Regions from separate parts of the Homo sapiens genome. Here all the other regions are linked to region 3. The links come from fine-mapping of genetic effects on gene expression. A gene starts in region 3. Each other region holds a variant in brackets. All regions are shown on one strand. Distances are from middle to middle.

Region 1 (5,000 bases), 71 kb before region 3:
TTTTATCTTATACGTACTCTTGCATAATTTTTGGACCAGAGAACTGGTCTGAAAAATGAACAGATTCAATCTTGTCAGCATAGTGTGTAAGAAAGTGAACCATCTGAAAAAAAGAAAATAATATTTTTTAAAAGCAAGGTTTAATGCATTTCCCTTTTTTTCCTAAAGATATTCACTCTTTGAGATGGTGCAACGGCTCACACCAGTAATCCCCGCACTTTGGGAGGCAGGTGGATTACTTGAGGCAAGGAGTTTGAGAATTTGAGATCAGCCTGGCCAACACAGTGAAACACCGTCTCTACTAAAAATACAAAAAAATTAGCCGGGCATGGTGGCATGTGCCTGTAACCCCAGCTATCCAAGAGGCTGAGGCACGAGAAGCGTTTGAACCCGGGAGGTGGAGGTTGCCGTGAGCAGAGACCACGCCACTGTACTCCGGTCTGGGCGACAGAGCAACACTCTGTCTCAAAAAAAAGAAAAAAAAAAAAAAAGAAATTCACCTTTCAATCCTTACTTTTATACAATGTCCTTCATTAAGACCAAAGCGTGTTCATTGCTTTTTATTTATTTTTTGTGACAAGGTGTTGCTCTCTTACCCAGGCTAGAGTGCAGTGGCACAATCATAGCTTACCATAGCCTTAATCTCCTGGGCTCAAGTGATCTTCCTGCCTCAGCCTCCTGAGTAGCTGGGACTAAAGGAACACACAACCACACCTGGCTAATTTTTTTATTGTAGAGACAGGGTCTCACTATGTTGCCCAGGCTAGTCCTGAATCCCTGGACTCAAGTGATTCTCCTGCCTCCGCCACCCAAAGTGTTGAGATTACAAGTGTGAACCACAGCGCGCGGACAAGGCTAAAGCTTTTTAAAAATTAAATTTCAATAAGATAGGGAATCTCTTTAGAATTAAAGTAGTACTCCAGGCTGGGTGCAGTGGCTCATGCCTGTAATCCAAGCGCTTTGGGAGGCCAAGGTGGGTGGATCACTTGAGGCCAGGAATTCCAGACCAGCCTGGCCAACACAGCGAAACCCCATCTCTACTAAGAAAAAAAAAAAAAAAAAAAAAGTAGTACTCCTTTTTAGTCATACCAATGATTAAGATTCTTTTCGAGCAGCTAAAAATATTTCTCAAAATAATGGTCGAAACAAGAATGAAAGCATAAAGATAACACCTAAAATAATTTCAGGGGATCCTTTATAAACATGTCACCTTGAACTTACATTTATAACCATCTCTGAGTTATCCTGTATTCTTATGATACTAAGATCTGTTACCATTACACAACCAATAGAAAGAAATGGCTCTCTCAGCCAGGCACAATGGTGGGCTCTTGCTGAGGCAGGAGGAACACTTGAGCCCAGAAGTTTTTGATGCTGCAGTGAGATCTATCACACACATGAATAGCCACTGCACTCCAGCCTGGGCAACATCTCAAGACCCCATCTTTTTAAAAACAAAGGAGGAGGGCTCTCTACACATCCCTCTTCTCCCACACAAACTGGAGCTCAAAAAAAAAAAAAAAAAAGACTAAATGACATGACGAAAAAGATTAGAAGCTATATTCCTTTTTCAAAAAAAAACCTGAAAGTCATTAGCAATCCCAGGAACAATTTGCTCTTGATTTAGAGAACTTCTTGACTAATCAAATTGTCCTTTTGACAAGCTAATTTATTGCTTAAAGAAGGTATTTTAATATTTGTGTGGGAAAGGAATGTAAAACTAATACATTGCCATAAAATGATGAACTTGTACAATGAGACTTTTAGGGAGAGTGTCCTGTAAATGCCAAGGCCTGGCAAATGTATGTCTTCTGTCGCATTTACCTTTGTATCCATCATTCCGTCTGTGACTTCTCCCATCTCTGACAGGATGGCCAAAGAGTCCGGCAGTCCATACTTTGCTCCAGACTTAGGTTTATCACTACAAAACTCACTCTAGAGGAAGAAGTAATTGAAAGTAAGATATGACCTTTTATTATGCAATGAAGCTGAATATGTGTGTGCTAAGGAGACACAGTT[C/T]TACGTATATTTGAGTTGGAGCAACCTGACATACCAAATCCTGCATCTCTTTCTGTAGTCGCACCAAGGCTTTCCGTGTGCCAACAGCAAATACGTAGGTATCCATGTCTTCATCATTCATGGTTACTTTTATTTGCTTTTAAAAAAATGTAAAAAACAACAAAATTCACCTGTTAGGTTCTGTGATAGGCAGATTTCTAAATGACCCTTAAGATTCCCTCCCCGCTGGTGCATATACTCTCCCTTTAAGTGATTGGGATTTGCAAATATGATGGAATATTACCCCCATAATCAGGCTGTTTTATGGCAGAAGGTCCCTAATCAGCTGACTGTGAATTAACCAAAAGGGACATTATCTTGGGTGTATCCAACTTAATCAAGCAAGTCCTTAAAAGGGACTATAGCCCTACTTGAAGAAGAAAGTCAAAATATGAAAGGGCTTATGGGAAGGTTGGCGGTAGGGCACATATGGTAAAGACCTAAGGGTGGCCTTTAGGAACTGAGTGGTTCCCAGTTGACAGCTAGCAAGAAAATAGGGACTACAGTAGTTCGTGCCTTTAAGCCTAGCTACCTGGGAGGCTGAGGCATGACTGCTTGATGTCAGGAGTTTGAGACCAGACCCGATCTCTAAAAAAGAAAGAAAAGGCCAGGCATGGTGGCTCACACCTGTAATCCTAGCACTTTAGGAGGCAAAAGGAGGAAGACTGCTTGAGCCCAGGAGTTCAAGACCAGCCTAGGCAACATAATGGGACCCCATCTGTACAAAAAAAAAAAAAAAGAAAGAAAAATTAGCCAGGCATTGTGATGCATGCCTGTAGTCCCAGCTACTCAAGAGGCTGAGGCAGGAGGATCGATTGAGCCCCAGAAGCTGGAGGCTGTAGTAAGTGATGATCGTGCACTCCATGCTAGGTGACAGAGCAAGACCCTGTCTCAAAAAAAATTAAAAAAAAAAAAAAAGGAAAAGAAAACAGGAACCTACACCCACAAGGAACTGAATTCTGCCAACAACCCAAATGACATTAAGAGGACCCTAAGCTTCAGAGAACTCTAACCTGAATGACATCTTGATTTCAGCCTGTTAAAACCCTAGAGGACCCACTCAATACATGCTGCACTTCTGACCTGCAGAAACGGTAACATAATAAATGAGGGTTGTTTTAAGCTGCTACACTTGGGTAATTTGCTATGTAGTAATAGAACACGAATACACTCAATACTTCACACAGGAGCACTCAAGTCCAAAAATAAAAAATAAACAAAACCTAAATGGAATAATGTGGAATAAACTGAAATATATTTGGTTTTTATCCCAGGTTTCAGGCACAGAGCTCCTAAAGCCCTTTGAATTTCCTGAATAACAAGAGTATCTTTTGTTACTTATACTGAGCCCCTTTTAATCACACCTGAGTTTATTCTAATGGGGTGACTTAACATAGACCCTAGTTAGCCTCAGGATGGTGCCGATAACCAGAAAAACCAAGTGCTTAGAGGGTAGAGACCTTCAGCCTTGCCCTTACCTCCGTGAAAGAGAGGGAGGACGAAATTGAGTTCTACAAAAACTCTTGAACAAGATTTAGAGAGCTTCCAAGCTGGTGAACACATCAACCTGCTGGGAGGGTGGTGTGCTCAGGGAGGGCATGAAAGCTCCGAACGACTCCCAACCCTGTTTCTTCCTGTGTCTTTCTTTCATTTGGCTACTCCTGAGTTTTATCCCTTATAATAAACCAGTAAATATAAGTGTCTTTTCAAGTTCTATGAGCCATTCTAACAAATTATTGGTTGAGTGGGGAGGTCATAGGAACCCGATTAATAGTTAGTTGGTCAGAAGTCCAGATGGTAGTATGGGTAACCTGGGACATTCGACTGCATCTGAAGTGGGGCAGTCTTGTGGGGCTGAGCCCTTTAATCTGTAGGATTTGAAGCTAACTCCAGGTAGATAGTGTCAGAACTGAATTGAGGCTGGGCACAGTGGCTCATGCCTGTAATCCCAGCACTTTGGGAGGCCCAGGTGAGAGGATCACTTAAGGACAGGGCAACATGAACTGCCTGGGCAACATAGCAAATCTCGGTCTCTAGAAAAAAAAAAAATTTAAATTTACAAAATTAAAAAGAATTATTATTATTATTGAATTCAATTGTGGGATACCCAGTTGGTATACAGAGAATCTGAGAATTGGCTGTTTGTATTGGAAAACAGTCCAGACAAGTAAACAGTTACTAGTACTCTGGGCCAGAAAGATAAAAAATTATAAGCCTAAAAGAGTCTGATATGATATATTTGTTATATTAATTACATCTTTAAATGCTTGGGTGAAATAATTTTTAGTATATGGAAGAAGGAAAATGTTAATATAGGAAAAGAACTGGTAAGATGGCAGCTGTAAAAGAAAACGTTTTCTGCTCTTCCATCATTGATGGGAAATTACACAAAGCAAACCTTAAACAGAATTCCAAAAAAAGGGGCAAATAAAATATAAAGAGCCACATATTTGTTGAAGCAATTTCTCTTAGCAGGAGGAGAGAGAGAGAGAGGGAATGAGAACTGAAAATGATTAAAACACTTTTAAAGAATAATTTTTACAAAAAGATGGCTGAGGATACAGCAAACTTTCCTCCTAATAAGATGGCAGTTTGTGGGAGAAAGGATGACAGAAATATTAACTGATAGGGTTCTAAATTTTAGTGGACTAAGTCATCATGGCCATGTTAGAAAAACTGAAATAAAAATACAGGTTTACAAGTAAAAATGAGATCTTTAAAATATAACAGTGGGGCTGGGTGCAGTGACTCTTGCCTGTAATCCCAGCACTTTGGGAGGCTGAGGCGGGTGGATCACCTGAGGTCAGAAGTTCGAGACCAGCCTGACCAACATGGTGAAACCCCGTCTCTACTAAAAATACAAAAATTAGCTGGGCATGGTGGCAGGCGCCTGTAATCTCAACTGCTTGGGAGGCTGAGGCAGGAAAATCGCTTGAACCCTG
Region 2 (11,102 bases), 22 kb after region 3:
ACAGTAATTCTCAAAGTGATAGGGGCAGTGGAGAATCAGAGTCCTCTGGGAAGCTACTCCAAAATACCTCCGCCAGCCACCCCTCCAATCCAATGGCTCTCAGTATTGTATTTGAAAAATAAGCTTCCTAGGTAATTCTGATGCGACCCAGTGGGTCGCATCAGAAAACACAAGATTTTTTCTACCCTAGAAAAGGGGCAAGCTAATAAGTGCATTTAAAAGCAGATCAGCTGGGTGGAGTGGCTCACACCTGTAATCCCAGCACTTTGGGAGGCCAAGGTGAGTGGATCACTTGAAGTCAGGAGTTCGAGACCAGTCTGGCCAAGATGGTGAAACCATGTCTCTACTAAAAATATAAAAATTAGCTGGGCGTGGTGGTGCACACCTGTAATCCCAGCTACTCAGGAGGCTGAGGCACGAGAATTGCTTGAACCCAAGAGGCAGTGGTTGCAGTGAGCAGAGATCGTGCCACTGCACTCCAGCCTGGGTGACAGAGTAAGACACTGTCTCAATAATAATAAAGCAGATCAAACGGTTAAATATAACTCAGTTCCTGTCAATCCCTTGTTTAAAACCCTCCCCAGCTCCCCATTGCTCTTAGATTGAATGTCACACTCCCTCCTGTGACATTTAAGGCTCTGCAGGACCTGGTCCCTGCTTACCTCCTTGGGTTCATTTTAAATCACTGCCTTTGGCTCTCCAAGCATTGGCCCAGATGGTCTCCTTGCAGTTTTTCAAACTACCCATCCCCTTCCCATCTCAGAGCCTCTCTGTTCTCTCACACCCTACTTCCCACCAAGTGATTATCACAGTACATCATTACTTAAGTGTGTGCTGATTTACTGTCTGATGTGGCTCACCCACTAAAATATAAACTCTACGAAGGCAGGATCTTTTTCTCTCTCAATTTATCTTTTTATTTTAAAATTTGTATTTTTTTAAGACAGTGATTTGCTAGGTTGCCCAGGCTGGCCTCAAACCCCTGGGCTCAAGTGATAGTTCCTGAATAGCTGAGTAGGTATACACCACACCTGGCTATTTTTTTAAATTGAAGTGAGATTTACGTAATAAAATTAACTGTTTGAAATTGCACAATTCAGTGGTATATATTACATTCACAATGTTGTGCAACACCTCCTCTACCTAGGTCCAAAATTTTGGGGTCCAAAATAATGACCCCAAAAGAAAACTCCATCCTCATTAGAAGTTGCTCCTCATTTCTTCCTCTTCCCAACTTCTGGCACCCACCAATCTGGGTTCTGTCTCTAGATTTATCTATTCTGGATACTTCATATAAATGGAATCATAATAGGTGGGTGTTGGGCATGGCTTCCTTCACTTAGCATAATGTTTTTGAGGTTCATCCATTTTGTAGCATGTATCAGTACTTCCTTTCTTCTTATGGCTGAATAATATTCCATTGTATGTATATAACACAATGTGTTCATCTGTTTGTCTTTGTATTTATTTGTTTATGACAGCATCTCGCTGTGTTGCCCAGGCTGATTTCAAACTCCTTAGCTCAAGTGATCCTCCTGCCTTGGCCTCCCAGAGTGCTAGGATTATAGGCATGAACCACCATGCCTGGCCCTATCCATTTATCTGTTGATGCGCAGTAGGGCTACTTCTACTTCTTGGCTATTCCAAGTAGTGCTGCTATGAATATATATTTGTATTTGAGTACCTGTTTTCAGTTATTTGGGGTATATACTGTGTCTCCCTTGATCCCTGTTGTAACTTAACAAATATGTATGAACAGACAATGTTTGAGTGTAGTGGGAGGGAATGATAAACAATAATATAATATCAGTTAATATCAGATATATCAGATAATATAAACAATGAGTTAACTGTGTTATGATAAAATATCCTTAAGGTGTTAGGGAGCAAATAGAGATATCTGAGGCATGGTAGAGATAAAAGGAAGATTTCCTACACAGTAGGCAGAGAATAGGTAACATTTACTGAGCATTTTCTACGTGAATTAGCTCATTTAATCATCACAACACATAGGAGGTAGATACCATATATGAGGTACACACTATTTTTACCTCTTTTTTTTTTTTTAAAGAGTTGGGGTCTCACTCTGTTGCCCAGGCTAGAGTGCAGTGGCATGATCATAGCTTGACTAATGGGGCCTCAAACTCCTGGGCTCAAGCAATCCTCCAACCTCTAAAAACTCCCGAGTACCTGGGACTACAGACACCAGCCTCTATGCCTGGCTCTATCTCTGTTTGAGAAATCAAAGCATGGAGATCCAGTCACTTGCCCACCCTCACTGTGATGGTGCTAGGATTCATCAAACCTGTTTCTGATCTGGCTCTAGAATCCAGTCTAGGGACTAACCATTACTTACCACCGATTTTTGGTAGCTGTGTGTCTGGTCTGTTATTACTTGCAAAGAAACTGTTAAAACTGAAAAGTGAGGCTGGGCAGGTGACTCATCCAGCACTTTGGGAGCTGAGGTGGGAGGATTGCTTGAGGGGTTCAAGACCAGACCAGGCAACATGGTGAGACCCTGTCTCTACAAGAAAATGAAAAAATTTGCAGAGTGTGATGGTGGGTGCCTGTGGTCCCAGCTACTTGGGAGGCTGAGGCAGGAGGATCACTTAAGCCCAGGAGTTTGAGGCTGCAGTGAGCTCTGATCATGCCACTGCACTCCAGCTAGGGCTACAGAGTGAGATGTTGTGTCTGGAAAACACAAAAACAAAAAACTGAAATGCAAGTGTCATAGACACTCAGAGAAAAAGAAGTTGATTGATAGGCCCTGATTAATCGAAGTTTCCTGGAACACTTTGAAGTGGAGGCAATATTCCCCTGCCTTTGTTCCCTCAGCTTGGAATGTCTGTTTCTCTTCCTCCCTTGATACTTATTCTGCTCAGTGCCCACTTTTCATGGACTTCATTCAACAACTTTTATTGAGCCCTTGTATGGTCCCAGGCTTACAGTTTAGAGGAGGGACTTTCCTATAACCTTGAGGCCCTGTTAACATCTACAGATACTCAAAGAGACTAAATGGAACTAAAAAGTATTTAACAAACTATTTAATAATAAAGTATTTAATACAACCAGAGCCAATGGGACAATTCCCAGCACAGACTCTGGGAATTTTGGCTCCTTGCCCAGCTGCATGAAAGTAGCACCCACCAAGTAGCTTGGAGAAAGGCCCTTGGAGCAAGGTGGCCCAGTGCTTGCCCTAGAGCAGGCCAGCAAAGGAACATTCCTCAGTATGGATGTCCTTCAGGGGGTTGGAATTTCATGAGAAGCAATGTGGATAGTCTGGTCATGGTGGGAAATGTTTACCAAGATGGCAGCACTGGCGGAGCTGTATCAGAGCCTGTCCCAGCTGGAGCACCCCGGCAGCTAAGTGTCCATCTCCCACATGGATGCAGAGTAGGGAGAGGAAGGGACAGTCAGGGCAGCAGAAGGACTGGATGCCAAGATAATGTAGCAGGTGCTGTACGCAGCATTTGAGAAGCATTTATTGAGCAACTTCTATGTGCCAGTCCCTGACATATGCTGGTAAAGAAGATAAATGCATAAACAGGTCATTTCCCCACATGACAACTGCTAAGATAAAAGTATTCACAAGGTACCATGGGGAAACAAGGAGGCCTTTAATGAGGGAAAGGGATTAATGAAGACTTCTTGGAGGAGGTAACAGGTGAGTTAAGCAAAGAAGACACAGTAAGAGTCAAAGGCATGAAGCTGTACAGGATGAGGAGAATCAGAGTGAGAGTTGCCAGATCACTGAATGTAAGGGAGAGCTCCTCTTCTGTGAGCACATTGTGGTCACAGTTCTCAACACACATACTGTCACAGCACAGTCTAGCGGTAAAATGCCTGAAGAGTACAGACTTGCAGTGAGCAGAGATCGCGCCACTGCACTCCAGCAGTGCAGATATCAGCATATAAGAAGTGGGCTTTGGGCCGGGCGCAGTGGCTCATGCCTGTAATCCCAAGACGGATCACCTGAGGTCAGGAGTTTGAGACCAGCCTGACCAACGTGGTGAAACCACGTCTCTACTAAAATTACAAAAATTAGTTGGACGTGGTGGCGCATGCCTGTAGTCCCAGCTACTCGGGAGGCTGAGGCAGGAGAATCGCTTGAACCCAGGAGGCAGAGGTTGCAGTGGGCTGAGATCGTGCCACTGCAGGCCAGCCTGGCGACAGAGCGAGACTCTGTTTCAAAACAAAAAAACAAGACTTTTTGCAAATTATCCATTGTCAAAACTCCGCCAAATACATCTCCCAGCCCGCCAGGGAGCAGCCAGCAGAGGCCGCAAGCTCGGCCAAGCGAGCCGGGATGTCCAAGGCGGGAACGTGGCTTCGCGCGCAACTCTCTGAGACGCGGGCCGGCTCACGTGTCCGGGCCGCACCACGAAAACAACAGCCACAGGGGAGAACAACCTCTTGTTTTCCTCATACAGCCGAGCTTTGCTGCAAACGATCCCTTTCCTTTTGTTTCCACATTGCGTTATTCAGAAGTGGTTATGCGGCGCCAAACACGCGCTTTCTGCCCCACAGGTTTCAGCCTTCCCCACCCTCATCTTCCCCGCGCTCCCCTCCCGTCGTTGTAGCTTCCTGCTCGCCCCTCTCATCTCAGCCAACCCTGCTGAGCTTTCGCGTGGGCGTCACGAGTTTCTAGGCAGATCAGGAAAACCGCTCTCCGGCCGCACCCTCGCGCGCCCCCGCCTGGCGGTGTAGAACAAACGGTCTGAGCGCTTGGCGGGCGACTGAGAGCGGAGCGGGCGAGGCCGAGGAGCGGAGGCTGAAGCCGTGAGGAGCGGCCCGGCGAGGGCGAGGGGCGTGCGAGCGGGCGGCCGCGGCTCGGTGAGGATTTCGGTCGTGTTTTCCTTGGCCGTCGCCGGAAGCCCGGAGAAGCCGGGTGGAACTGCCTTTTGAACGCGTTCTCACGTGTGTTAGGGATCGTCCTCCTGGAAGAGCCTTGATGGCCACGCGGTGTCCTCGCCCCTCTCTCCGCTGGACCCGAGGCCCCTTGCCAGCAAGAGCTGGCCTGGTGTCCGGTATCCACGTGGGGGGCAGTGGCCCTCACACAAGGATTGGTACCCATCTATCTAGTGCGTTGGTTCGTGCATTCACTTGTTCCTTTGTGGTCGTTGAACGCCTGTAACGTTCCAGGTGCTTGGGATCCATGAGTGAATAAAACCAAGGGCCCTGCCTTCCTTGGGACTTACAGTCCAGGGGAGACAGAGCCGCTGATTTCAGGTCTCATCAGTAAGTGACAGGGTGTTAGAGGGCGATAGTGCTGCGGAAGGGAAAGCGGTAGGCATGCGGGGGGTGCTGCGGTGAGGGGCGTGGGCAGGGAGGGCTGGGAAGCCCGAGGTCAGCGCAGGCC[A/G]CATTACAAAGAGACTGAACTGGATAGAGGAGTGTTTGGGGAGAAGGAAGATAATTCCAGGCTGATGGACGAGAGAGTGCAGAGGCCCAGTGTGACTTGTATTTATAAGGAACAGCGGCCGGGCATGGTGGTTCACGCCTGTAATCCCAGCATTTTGGGAGGTCAAGGTGGGCGGATCACTTGAGGTCAGGGGTTCGAGACCAGCCTGGCCAACACGGTGAAACCCTATCTCTACCAAAACTACAAAAATTAGCCAGGCAAGGTGGTGCGTGCCTGTAATTCCAGCTACTTGGGAGGCTGAGGCAGGAGAATCGCTTGAATCCGGGAGGCGGAGGTTGCAGTGAGCGGAGATGGGGCCATTGCACTCCAGTCTGGGCAACAAGAGCAAACTCCGTCTCAAAAAAAAAAAAAAAAAAAGGAAAGAAAGAAGAGAAAAGATAGAAAACAGCAAGAAACCCTTGAATATGAAAATATGAATGGAAGGCAAGAAAGAAAGAAGGAGGGAGGGAAGGGAGGGAGGGAGGGAAGGAAGGAAGGAGGCAGGGAGGGAAGGGAGAGGGAGAGAGGGAGGGAGGAAGGAAGGAAGGGAGGAGGGAGGGAGGGAGGAAGGAAGGGCAGCAAGAAACCACTGACTATGAATGGAAGGCGAGAATCCCAGACTTGGACGCGAAGTTTAGTTCACACGCGCGGCCAAAGCAATCCAACAGCATGCGTCCCCACCCTCCTCTCACTGCCTACCCCTCTCCTGCAAAAGACCTCCCAGTGACTGGAGTGCAGGCCAAGACTTTCAGACAGTTTAAACCATTTTTTTTTTTTGAGACAGAGTTTCGCTCTGGAATGCAGTGGCGCAGTCTTGGCTCACTGCAACCTCTGCCTCCCAGGTTCAAGCAATTCTCCTGCCTCAGCCTCCTGAGTAGCTGGAATTACAGGCGCCCACCACCACGTCCAGCTAATTTTTGTATTTTTAGTAGAGACAGTGTTTCACCATGTTGGCCAGGCTGGTCTTGAATTCCTGACCTCAGGTAATCTGCCTGCCTCGGCCTCCCAAAGTCCTGGGATTACAGGCATGAGCCACCGCTCCCAGCCTCAGTTTAAATTTCTAATTTGGGATATAATCCACAGAATAAGCAAAAGGAATTCCAAAATAAATTAAAAATAATTTCTCCTTGGGGTTACTGCTTTCTTTCTCCTTAGCAAGATAAATACAAAATTTTGTGTTTCAGAACCTGATCATAATGTGCTATGTGAAAACAAGGATGAAAGATTGGAGCTATGGGGATAGTGGGGTGAGGGCAGGGCATGAAACAACAAAGAACAAAGTATGTGTCTGTATATGGGTATGAAAACAAAAACAACTCGCCCAGGACTGTTTTTTCTTAAGACTCTTTACAGGCATAGAGATAATACTAGTAGCAACTACAAAGAAAAACCGATTAGCTTGGCTTATAGTAATGAGCAATGGGAATTTTTTTTTTTTCGTTTTTTTGCTAAGACTGTAAAAGCAGAACATAGTCTCTGAGATAAACTGACAGCAGTGCAGCCGGGCATGGTGGCTCACGCCTGTAATCCCAGCACTTTGGGAGGCCGAGGTGGGTGGATCATGAGGTCAGGAGATCAAGACAATCCTGGCTAACACAGGGAAACCTCATCTCTCTAAAAATACAAACAAAATTAGCTGGGCGGGGTGGCACATGCCTGTAGTCCCAGCTCCTCAGGAGGCTGAGGCAGAATCGCTTGAACCAGGGAGGTGGAGGTTGCAGTGAGCAGAGATTGCACCACTGCACTCCAGCCTGGGCGACAGAGCAAGACTCTGTCGCAAAAAAAAAAAAAAATTGACAGCAGTGCTAGGCTATGTAGCAGAAGGTAACATCAGGTCAGGTGCAGTGGCTCACACCTGTAATCCCAGCATTTTGGAATGCCTAGATGGGAGGACTGCTTGAACCCAGGAGTCTGAGGCTGCGGTGAGCTATGATCACACCACTGCACTCTAGCCTGGATAACTGAGTGAGACCCCATCTCAGGAAAAAAAAAAAAAAAAAAAGAGGCCGGGCGCGGTGGCTCACACCTGTAATCCCAGCACTTTGGGAGGCCGAGGCAGGCCGTTCACAAGGTCAGGAGATCAAGACCATCCTGGCGAACATCGTGAAACCCCATTCTACTAAAAATACAAAAAATTAGCCGGGTGTGGTGGTGGGCACCTGTAGTCCCAGCTACTTGGGAGGCTGAGGCAGGAGAATGGCGTGAACCCGGGAGGCGGAGCTTGCAGTGAGCGGAGATTGCGCCATTGCACTCCAGCCTGGGCGACAGAGTGAGACTTCGTCTCAAAAAAAAAAAAAAAAAAACCATCAACAACAACAAAAAAAGAACGTAACATCAGCAAGCTACAGAGAAGAGTAAAGCAGGAGTTCTTGGATTAATCTCTAAGAGGAATTGTTTGTGACACTGTGGCCCCATTAAAGCACAAATAATCTGGATTCATGTTATAGATTTAAACATCATAAGACCTACACATTGGAGAGTGTAACTGCTGGATTAGTTCTAACTGGTTCTACTCCGCTAATAATGGGGTATCAAGTTATTTTACCGGCACAGAGCCAAGAAGTTGCAAGTCATTACAGTCAGAACATGTGCAGAAAGGGAGACTTTAACCTCAAATAACCCGGGAACTAAAGTCTTGCCCCTCAACAGAACCAAAAGATTGGGACATGGCTGGAATATGAGCACAGGAACACTTTCAAAAGCAACGGGTCCAAGCCCAGGAACGTCCAGTGATAAGACCCTTTACCATATCTTACCATAAGTGGTACTGTTTGAAGTCCTTCGGATCAAAACCTGTCCTGCCAGCACTTCCACCTATGCCCGTGTCCTCCCTCACACTTAAAATTTGTTCCAGACTCCAGATTGAAGAGACATATTTGAGCCTGTCTTCTTGCTCAGCCACCTTGCAATAAAAAGTCTGGTGCTTCAGTGTTTGGCTTTACATTGCACGTGGACAGACCGACCTGGTTTGGTTCGGTAACAAAGAGGAGAGCTTGCTTTATTTATTTATTTATTTATTTATGACAAGGTCTTCCTCTGTTGCCCAGGCTGGGAGTACAGAGGTGTGGTCATGGCTCACTGCAGCCTCAAACTCTTTGGCTCAAGTGATCCTCCCACCTCAGCCTCACAGGTAGCTAGCACTACAGGTGAGCATAACCACACCTGGCTAATTCTTTAATTTTTTTGTAGAGACAGGGGTCTTGCTATGTTGCCTAGGTTGCTCTCAAACCAGTGGGCTCAAGCAATTCTCCCACTTTGGTGTCCCAAAATGCTGGGATTATAGGCATGAGTCACCGCACCCAGCTTAATTTTTCTTATATGGCTTAAAAGCCAGTTCTAAATTACTTTCAGGCTGGGCATGGTGGCTTATGCCTGTAATCCCAGAACCTTGGGAGGCTTAGGTGTAAGGATCACTGGAGGCCAGTAGTTCAAGATTAGCCTGGACAACATAGTGAGACCCCTGTCTCTACAAAAACATTAATAAAAAAATTATCTGGGTGTGGTGGTGTGTGCTTGTAGTCCCTGCGACTCAAGAGACTGAGGTGGGAGGATTGCTTGAGCCCAGGAATTTGAGGCTGCAGCAAGCTGTGATCATACCACTGCACTTCAGCCTGGGCAACAAAGCAAGACCCTGTCTCAATATATAAATAAATAATTTCAAAAAAGGTTTTGAATAATTGTGTCATCCTGGAAAAAGATGATAGCCTTCCAAAGTGGTTATTTTGAAGGGTAACCTTCACTTGGGAGTATAAATTTTCATATGCCTGTTATCCCTGTATTAAAAAAAAAAACTCTTTCAGACCAGCATAGAAGTGGAGTTAGACCTGTTCCAAACCCACTGTATGAAAATTAAATACAAAATTGGAGGGTAGTCCTTCATTTATGGAATACCCAGAATATCATAGGCTCTGTGCTAGGTGCTGGAGACACAAGATAAGTACACTAGAGCCTCTTACCCTCAAGGAATTTCTAGTATAGTGATGATTACATCACTGAAATAATTCACCAAAGTGAACTAATATATGCAACTTCAGAAATCTTGTTTGGCATAAAGTGAGGTAGAGATCATGTATAACAAGTAAGGGACTGTGAAGTGGGATAAGGCTAGTCAAGAAGCCTTTCTTAGAAGAAATTAGCTTGAATGAGTTTTTGTTTTGTTTTATTTTTTTGAGATGGAGTCTCACTCTGTCACCCAGGCTGGAGTGCAGTCGCATGATCTCGGCTCACTGCAACCTCCGCCTCCTGAGTTCAAGTGATTCTCCCGCCTCAGCCTCCCGAGTAGCTGGGATTATAGGCACCCACCACCACGCCCGACTAATTTTGTATTTTTTTAGTAGAGACGGGGTTTCACCATGTTGGCCAGGCTGGCCTGAAACTCCTACCTCAGGTGATCCACCCGCCTCAGCCTCCCAAAGTGCTGGGATTACAAGTATGAGCCACCGTGCCCAGTCTAAACTCAGTTTTTCATGTTTCCATGCCAGCACCCTTCTATTGACTCAGTCTAATAGATGGAGGCAAACTAGTAAAAAGGTAAGTAGAATACAACTTATACAGGAATCTTGATAATATCGCCTCATCCTTTTTCATATTTTCCCCCATGTTTTTGCTATGCACATAAGCTAAACTGAAATAAATAGATATAAGACATTCTTTTAGTACACCTTCACTGCTGATGTTTTTGCTGTAATTTTTCTAGACTAGTGAGGTTTCAGAAAAAGGGACTGAGTTTTAATATCAAATAAGCAATTTTCCTTATATATATATTTTTGGTCACTTTCTCCAGCATTGCTGTCTTTTTCTCTCCAGCCTTTGGCCCTTCTTATCAGGATGAAAACGCTTCTGTTTGGTGTCTGGACCCTGCTGGCCTTGATCCTTTGCCCAGGTGAGGCTATTCGGGAAAGCTTTTTAAACCAGTATGTGTCAGGACACAGGTAGCTGGTCAGTGAGGAAGGGGGTGGGGAGTCCTGAGTGGGGTGACACTTCAGTGTTCATTCATCTGGACCCGGGGGAAAGATTCCTGTCTCTTGGATCACTAGGACACAGAATCGTTACGGTCTCTGGCTTGTATTTGGGATAACACTAGTTAATAGACTATCAGAGAGGACTCTCCCTAGGAAACATGCCTTCTCCGCTTGGTTCCCTTCTGCCCCAGGACTGCCCTGTGTTTCTCCTCTTGAGAATGTTTTTACTTCTTTGTTGCCACCGTTTGTGTCATGATGAACTATAATAGGCTCTTGGTAGGACAGGACCCATACATAGCTCAGGTACAGAAAGTGAGTTCTCCTGATGACGGGAAAGGAACAGGGGCCTTAGCAGGTAACATTGCTACAAGAGCTGTGTATTCCCAGAGGGGACTGGTATTGGGAGGTGAAGTAGATGGTAGATATGGACTAGCTAAAGAGGACCTGTAGAGAAGCCTTCAGGACTTCCTGAAGTCTCCGTGCCCTTTACCTACATCAGGCATCTAAAATCCATCCGAGGCCAGGCGTGGTGGCTTGGCCAGGCACAGTGGCTCATGCCTATAATCCCAGCACTTTGGGAGGCTGAGGCAGGCGGATCACCCAAAGTCACGAGTTCGAGACCAGCCTGACCAACATGGTGAAACCCCGTCTCTACTAAAATTAGCCGGGCGTGGTGGCATGCACCTGTAATCCCAGCTACTTGGGAGGCTGAGGCAGGAGAATCACTTGAACATGGGAGGCGG
Region 3 (7,804 bases):
TCTCCCTCTTTGTCCCCGCCCCCTTCTGTTTTAGGCTCACTACCCACCTTTCGGGCTTCGGCTACATAAATCAAAAGGCTCAGGCCCCCATCCCAAACCTTTAGCACAGCAATATCCTCTTCCCAGAGGTCCAACATCATGGCCTTTCCCTGCCTCCAGGGCTCCTGGCCCCCGTGCCTACCCCACTCCATACCTGAGCTCCTTGCGCCCCAACACTCTGATGTCCTGACAGCACACCCGTATGTCCTCAGTGGTAGCTGGATGCTGTGCCAACTCTTCATCATCTACCATGATCTGTTTGGGAGGATGGAAAGGTGTCAGGGGAGATCCTCAGGCCATGTTTCTGGGGCTACCTCATGTCCCTCAAGGCTGGAGACTCACTTCGCTGGCCTTGGAGAGGAAGTCAACAGGGTTGGCAGCTCGGAGGAAGTCAGTGACTGAGGTACGGTGATAGAGAGTGAGGTCACCCTCAGCATAGCCTTCAGCCTTAGGAAGGAAAAGAGAGAAGCTTGGTCAGGCCCTTCTAAGGTACCTGTAGGACCCACCAGGCCCAACCTCCCTAGAGTTCCAGGACCCAAGAGTGACCCCATTCCCCAAAACACACCTTTGGCTTCTTCTTAGTAACCAATTCAGTAACGGTCTTAGCCTGAACTTCAACCTCCTTAAAGGCAAATTTGGGGTCAAAGAATTTACTGTCAACCTTGTCAGGGGCCAGGAATCCTAAAAATGACAGGATATATTAAAAAGTGTGCTTTGGGAGTTGGGAGCCTGGATCAAGAGAAAGGAAATGATGCCCACCTTGGCAGACTACAAAGATCTCTGCAGATTCATGGCGAGAGGCTTGGGGCTTGGTGGCCTGGACACGGCGGAACAGCTGCTGAAAGATCCATAGCAGAGGCTGATAGTCACGAGAACGGAAAACCTTTGTGATGAAGCTGCCACCACGGGCCAAAAAGTCACAAGCCAAACGTAGAGCCATCAGTGTCAAATGGGCTGTAGGATAGAGACAATTAGTTGACGCACTCTGCAGCCCAGGAGGGCATGCGCCCACCTCCACCATCACCTGATCTCCAAGCACCACACTCCCTGTACCTTGTGAGTAAGCATCATGGACCCAGCTAGCCCCAACGTTGGGGGCCCCATCATTGAGCACAACATCAACCTTCCAGGTCTTCAGCTCCTTCCTCAGGGCCTAAAGAGAAGAAAAGGAACTATGGAAACAGAAACACTGGAATGGCCCTGGTTCAGCCATTTGTCCATCTAGTCATTTGCTGAGTGCCCATCATGGGCCAAATGCAGTACCAGGCACAGGAGATACAATAGTAAACAAAAACAGTATGTCTCTACCTTCATGGAGATTACAGTCTGACACTGAATTCACAGGAGAAGACTTCACTAAAGATCTCTGCCCTTCTCCCAATTCCAAACACCTTTATCCCTGACTCTAAATAAAGCCTGGAGTGGACACTACGAATGCCATAGGTCTTGTCGTACAGATGTCAGGCAAGAACGTGCTCAAAGCACGGTAAAAAGGAAAAACTTGCCTTTAGAGGATTTCAGGGATGTAGATGTTTCCGTATAAAGGGGGAAGGAAGAGAGAGACTCCTATTACCTGCCTACAACGTTCTGTTGTGATGTCCTGCTGGAGAGTCACCACATTGGGGAGAGGCTTGATTGGAACCAGGTCCACTCCTGGAAGAAATCAGGTCAGAGTATTCTAAAAGGTTGCTTCAAGCAGGGAGGAGAGAAATACAGGACAAAATACCTTATACACCCACCCCTTAAAACACCAAGGAGAGCTGTCCGTTACTCACCCACAATAAGGCTGGATACAGGCATAAACTTGGCAGCTACCTGCAGCCTATAAAAGGAACAGAAATTTAAAAACCTAGAGCCATCCTTTTCCCCCTCTTGGCAACTGATCTCTCATCCCTGGTGTTACGTGTACTGGCCAAAGCATATCATAGGCACGTATTCCAAGCCCTTTCTCTGCAATCAAGAAAGGAAACGGCCCCCAAGAGGACCGGGATTCGGGTTCCCCTCCCGCAGTGAAACTGGAAGCCATCCCAGCTCAGAACCCAGAAAGCGGCCACCAGGAGCAACCTGTGGCGAGTGTTACGAACCATCCCCCTGGCGCAGCACACAGGTCCAGCAAGGCTCGGGCTTTCTGCAGGAACTGAAAGCGGCGATTGAGCTGGATCAGCTTGAAAGCAGATCGGGAACGGTAACCTGGACAAAACAACCAAGTGCGCAAACTGCTTCACTAGTAGGATTTCTCCGGCCTCGCAACCGACCACCCCTTCTGCAGGAGAGGTACATAATGGTCGCAAAGAGCAGGCGAACCGGGCAGAGATCGCTCGCTCGCTCGCAGACTGAGCGAATCCGGACTCACCCGTCTCCTTCGCCAAGTGATAAAACTTGTCTCGTCGGCTCTTGCCAACTTTGCCCTTCTTGCCCATGGTGGAAAGGGGGAGTATCCCTCAATCTGGGGAGAAAGTAGAAGTTGGGAACGTCTCTTTCCGGAGCACCAGATTCCACTTCCAGTTTCCCACTTCCAGTTTCCCACTTCCCGCAGCAATTCCACCCCGCGCCCCTCTCCGCACACTACCTAGACCCAGAGCCGCTTTCTCCACACTTGGAACCGCACAAGTATGCAGCTAACTACTTCCGCTTCCGCTTGCGTCCCCTGCGTCCCTGGCTCGAGGTTTTCCGCCATTTTGAGTGTGGCCCTAGATTGTTCTCAATACTCTGTCCTTGGGTTTTGTAAGTTGAAAGTTGAGACTAGGAAGGCATATCACAAGAACTATAAACAGAGTTTCAATGAGGCAACACTGAGGAGGAGTTCTACTCCTTCCTCATCCCCTTCCAAAGCCCCTGAACTCGAGTAGCCGCCCCTCCCATCATGGTTCCCTTAGTGTGGTCTCGCCGCACACCCCGCCCATTGACCCGGAATTCTTCTCTGCCTGGTCTTCAGGTCCCAATCCTCCGCTTCCGCGCTTGCGCGCCAAGACGGCTCGGATGCCGGCGGTCTCTGCTGAAGAGAGAAGATGGCGCTTGACGGACCAGAGCAGGTATGGCGGGTGCAGTGGCGGCCCGGCAGGTTACGGGGCTGGGTGCGGAGCGAGCGTGATCTGAGTGGAGAGCGGGCCGGGGCAGGAGCGTCGGGTGGGTCGGAGGTGCCTGGACCAGTCCATGCTGGACGCTGCCTGCGACCGGATCTGCTGTGTCAGCGCCGCCCTCGGTGAGTCAGGGCAAGGCTGGGAGAGGAAGACGCGGTAGAAGCGGAGTGAGTGAGGGAAGCGATGGGCGCGGGAATGGCCGGCCCACGGGTCGCAGGAGACGGGACGCCAGTCCTTTGGCTCCGTTCCGCTGGCTCCTTCGTCAGTACTGACACCTCGGGCTTGTAGAGCACTTCACGCAGTGCAAAGCGCCCCCCGTCTATATCATATCGCCTCTCGGTCCTCCTAAAAGTCGTATGAGGTAGGCGGCGTTCCCATTCTTTTATTTTAGTCCTGGGAAAATGGAGGGTTCCAAGGGAGGGAGGGATTAGAACCCAGATCCTGAGCCTCCGAAGTCCAAACTTTTTCTACTACGCAAAGCTACCTGGTGTCAAGCCTTATTCAAAGTGCCCTGCAAGTGGCTTTACCCCCTCGGATGTTTAACCTGTCGTTTAAGACTCACTCTGTGTCTTCAGATGGAGCTGGAGGAGGGGAAGGCAGGCAGCGGACTCCGCCAATATTATCTGTCCAAGATTGAAGAACTCCAGGTGAGGACGGACTCCAGAGGGAGCTAGGAAGGGTGATGATGGGGGATGGAAACGGACTTCCACAAATCCATCTAATTCCTTTGGGAGTGCAGTGGAAGAAGCTGCTGCTTCTCCTTTCTTGTTTGTTTCTTAGCTAGTAGGGTGTATGTATCAGAAGTAAGCAATCTCTTGTTCTCCTCCAGTCCCATCTCTTTGAGGGTCTTAGTGTTCACAGTTTGTTACACATCTTCGAGTCAAATCTTAATAGTAAAGGTACCTCTAGCCAAAGGTCAACCCTTTTGGAAGAAGCCCGAATGAAAAGGATTCTTATAAAAGGGAAACATAAGCTCAGGAGTTGAAATTTATCACCAAGAGGTTGGGTGAGGGTGAAGTGAGAATGTGAGGAAGGGCATCATTGAGGGATCTGGACAATGCTAATTCCATAGAGACTGAATGAAAGAAATTGGGCAACCCAGAGCCCTAGCCTAAAGCGCTAAACCATAGAAAAAGGACCGTTTATGTTGTTAATCAAATGTTTGTGTTACCAGTAAGGCTTCCAGCAGTAAGGTATGGCTTCCAGTAGTAAGCCTTACAGACAACATAAACAGTAGTCTGTTAGTGTTACGTTATACTGTTACGGTAGGCTGTTAGTAGTTTAACTTTGGACAGGTCCATGGATTTTCAATTTCACCCTAACCCCCTGCGTTGTTCAAGTGTCAACTGTAATATAAATTGGATGGGGGAAAGCCACAAAAGACAATTCTGAATTCCAAGTGCATTTGCAGGTATTATGTTTAGTTTACCATTTTTGAATGCTTTTTCATGTGTTTTTATTCGTTCACCTTAGTAGTCTTGAAGCAGGGTAGCTGATGCTATACCCATGTGCCGTTTGGTAACAGATCTAGATTTTTAAAAATAGATTGTCTTACCTTTACTTTGCTTTTGATTGACAGCGGCTGGGCTAGAACTCAGGTTTCTCACCTAACAATCTTTCCACCAGGTGTTGTTGCCTTCCTGCAAGAAATTTGGTGTTACATGAGCCAGCTGTAACTTTTCTCCATTAGATTCTGTTACTCCTGGACCAGTATTGGACAAGCAGCCTTCTTTGATGGCTGCTGTAAGGTCCAGAGGGACTCTTGAAGGACAGGGCAGGGTCATTAGGATCATACTGGAGAATCTGAAACAACATGCAGGTGCCCTGTGCCCTTCCCTCAGCTCATTCAGACCTGTGAGGTCTTGGCCAAGATCCTACCTCCTCCTGTCTCCTGCCCTTGAATAATGGAATTTGTCTCTTGTCTGCCACAGCTGATTGTGAATGATAAGAGCCAAAACCTCCGGAGGCTGCAGGCACAGAGGAACGAACTAAATGCTAAAGGTGAGTGGAGAAAGATGGGAAGCCGCATGTGGGCAGTTTGTCTGAGGTCTGTCCTTATCTCCCTGCACTGTGTCTTCACAGCAGTGCTTACTGTTTTCTCCCTGTCATCATCTAGTAGTTTCACATGCATCTCTTTTTCCTGAGCCCTATTGTAGCCTCCTTAAATACATGAATTTTGACCTTTGGCCTTCCTTTAATAAGAGTGATGCTTAGCTCATGCACGTAGAATTGGGTCCTGGAGACTCCAAAGGAGTAGCTAGGTGACCACTGTGTCTGTTTGCCATCTAGTTCGCCTATTGCGGGAGGAGCTACAGCTGCTGCAGGAGCAGGGCTCCTATGTGGGGGAAGTAGTCCGGGCCATGGATAAGAAGAAAGTGTTGGTCAAGGTAAAAGCAGCATGACCCCAGGGACCAGCTCGGTCTCCACTGCATTCCCACCCCTTTGTGTGTAGCCTCGGGAGACAGGGTTCTGTGTTCTGTCAAGGTATTGTGGGATTCTCATAGGTCTTCCTGGGTAGGATTAGTGATTTGGTGGCTGTCAAGGAAGGTCATGAGCCCTTGTTTCTTTAGGTACATCCTGAAGGTAAATTTGTTGTAGACGTGGACAAAAACATTGACATCAATGATGTGAGTGTAGCAGGTGAGGTGGTGGTGGTGGTGGGGTCAGCTCTTACTGTACCACTTCTGAAACTCGCCCCCTTCACCCAGGTGACACCCAATTGCCGGGTGGCTCTAAGGAATGACAGCTACACTCTGCACAAGATCCTGCCCAACAAGGTAGACCCATTAGTGTCACTGATGATGGTGGAGAAAGTACCAGATTCAACTTATGAGATGATTGGTGGACTGGACAAACAGATCAAGGAGATCAAAGAAGTGATCGAGCTGCCTGTTAAGCATCCTGAGCTCTTCGAAGCACTGGGCATTGCTCAGCCCAAGGTGAGGAGCAGGGCTTCTCTGAGAGGGCCAAGCTGTACTTACTCCTCCTGCCCCAGCCAGCCCTACTGCAGGGGTTGGGGAGGCACCGGGATAGGCTGCATCTTGCTTGGGCTGGCCCTCCCCCTGAAAAGAGTGGCTGGGGAAGTGTTCCTAGGGCGGTGAGGTGGTTTGGATAGAAGGGACCTTGATGTTCCTTTTTTTTTTTTGTATCCCTAACATCTAGCAAGGGACCCAGCACTCGGTAAATGTTCACTGAATGAAATGAGGGGTGTAGCTTTCTGCCCTGAGTCCTGCTGTTCCCCTGTAGGGAGTGCTGCTGTATGGACCTCCAGGCACTGGGAAGACACTGTTGGCCCGGGCTGTGGCTCATCATACGGACTGTACCTTTATTCGTGTCTCTGGCTCTGAACTGGTACAGAAATTCATAGGGGAAGGTAACCATGGCTAGCAATGTGAGAAGCAAGAGGTAGGGGTAGGGGGTTAGAGAGCTAATAAGCTAATAAGCTCCCTAACACCAGCTCGGCCTCCACACAGGGGCAAGAATGGTGAGGGAGCTGTTTGTCATGGCACGGGAACATGCTCCATCTATCATCTTCATGGACGAAATCGACTCCATCGGCTCCTCGCGGCTGGAGGGGGGTTCTGGAGGGGACAGTGAAGTGCAGCGCACGATGCTGGAGTTGCTCAACCAGCTCGACGGCTTTGAGGCCACCAAGAACATCAAGGTAAGGTGGTAGCATCCTTGGGATGGGCCCAGGGAAGGCCTGGGTGCCACGCAGGCTGAGGAAGAGGTTTAGCTGATCCCCACTTGCTTTCTCTGCTCAGGTTATCATGGCTACTAATAGGATTGATATCCTGGACTCGGCACTGCTTCGCCCAGGGCGCATTGACAGAAAAATTGAATTCCCACCCCCCAATGAGGAGGTTTGTGATGGACACTGTGCAAAGTGGCTCTGGCTGTGGGGGTGGGGTGTGGGGCTCAGGCTTTTCCTTGCCATCTCCAGGCCCGGCTGGACATTTTGAAGATTCATTCTCGGAAGATGAACCTGACCCGGGGGATCAACCTGAGAAAAATTGCTGAGCTCATGCCAGGAGCATCAGGGGCTGAAGTGAAGGTAATTGGAGTACCCACTGAAAACAGGGCAGAGGCAGGAAGCTCTGGGCTCAAGGGCCACAGATGAGGGGCACAGCAGTGGGGCCTCAATTTCCTTTTCCTGTTCAGGGCGTGTGCACAGAAGCTGGCATGTATGCCCTGCGAGAACGGCGAGTCCATGTCACTCAGGAGGACTTTGAGATGGCAGTAGCCAAGGTATAGGCCTCCATCTTTGTGCCTTTGCCAGTGGTGGCTCTGGGGCAGTGGGCTAGGGCATGTGTGTGTTCGTAACTTAATGTTCATTCTCTCTCCCACCCCTAGGTCATGCAGAAGGACAGTGAGAAAAACATGTCCATCAAGAAATTATGGAAGTGAGTGGACAGCCTTTGTGTGTATCTCTCCAATAAAGCTCTGTGGGCCAAGTCCTCTAGGACTCCAGTCTGTTAATGAGGGCTGTGCTGTTCAAGGACCAGGTCCAGGCACCACCAATAGACAAAAGGATTTATTTGGAAATTTCCAAACCTGCCAGATGTGGCACTCGCCAAGCCCTAGGCCCACCCTCCTCACCAAGCTCCAAAGGGCAACACCAGTCCTCCCAGCCTCCCCATTCACCTTACCCTGGCCTCCACATGCACATACCCCATACCTCAGGC

Evidence for each region. PIP is the estimated chance that this variant, and not a neighbour inherited with it, causes the effect. A credible set is the group of variants that fine-mapping cannot tell apart.
Region 1: its variant is the best candidate, but not a certain one, in a credible set for the expression of FTSJ3 in whole blood (TOPMed, PIP 0.63).
Region 2: its variant is the best candidate, but not a certain one, in a credible set for the expression of FTSJ3 in whole blood (INTERVAL, PIP 0.63).

What each region holds. Positions count from the first base shown.
Region 1 is chr17:63,754,416-63,759,415 of GRCh38, forward strand. It overlaps CCDC47 (coiled-coil domain containing 47), which reads right to left. Exons shown (of 13, transcript NM_020198.3): 7 at 2,054-2,155; 8 at 1,825-1,935; 9 at 18-103. Among named protein-coding and RNA genes, the nearest start is that of STRADA, 15 kb to the left of the region's middle. The variant C/T (reference allele first, on the strand shown) is at 2,020.
Region 2 is chr17:63,844,592-63,855,693 of GRCh38, forward strand. No RefSeq gene overlaps it. Among named protein-coding and RNA genes, the nearest start is that of SMARCD2, 7.5 kb to the left of the region's middle. RefSeq lists a cis regulatory region at 1-85 and a silencer at 7,938-8,232. The variant A/G (reference allele first, on the strand shown) is at 5,360.
Region 3 is chr17:63,824,444-63,832,247 of GRCh38, forward strand. It overlaps FTSJ3 (FtsJ RNA 2'-O-methyltransferase 3), which reads right to left and starts at 3,220. Exons shown (of 21, transcript NM_017647.4): 1 at 2,609-3,220; 2 at 2,393-2,485; 3 at 2,124-2,229; 4 at 1,815-1,861; 5 at 1,613-1,692; 6 at 1,093-1,192; 7 at 799-993; 8 at 605-720; 9 at 382-486; 10 at 194-294. The coding sequence starts at 2,459. PSMC5 (proteasome 26S subunit, ATPase 5) reads left to right here and starts at 2,988. Exons shown (of 12, transcript NM_002805.6): 1 at 2,988-3,071; 2 at 3,695-3,766; 3 at 5,051-5,120; 4 at 5,409-5,506; 5 at 5,690-5,746; 6 at 5,828-6,058; 7 at 6,366-6,492; 8 at 6,593-6,783; 9 at 6,884-6,982; 10 at 7,063-7,173; 11 at 7,281-7,367; 12 at 7,473-7,576. The coding sequence starts at 3,048. The coding sequence ends at 7,526. SMARCD2 (SWI/SNF related BAF chromatin remodeling complex subunit D2) reads right to left here. Exons shown (of 13, transcript NM_001098426.2): 13 at 7,638-7,804. RefSeq lists enhancers at 2,333-3,532, 2,669-2,948, 3,329-3,378.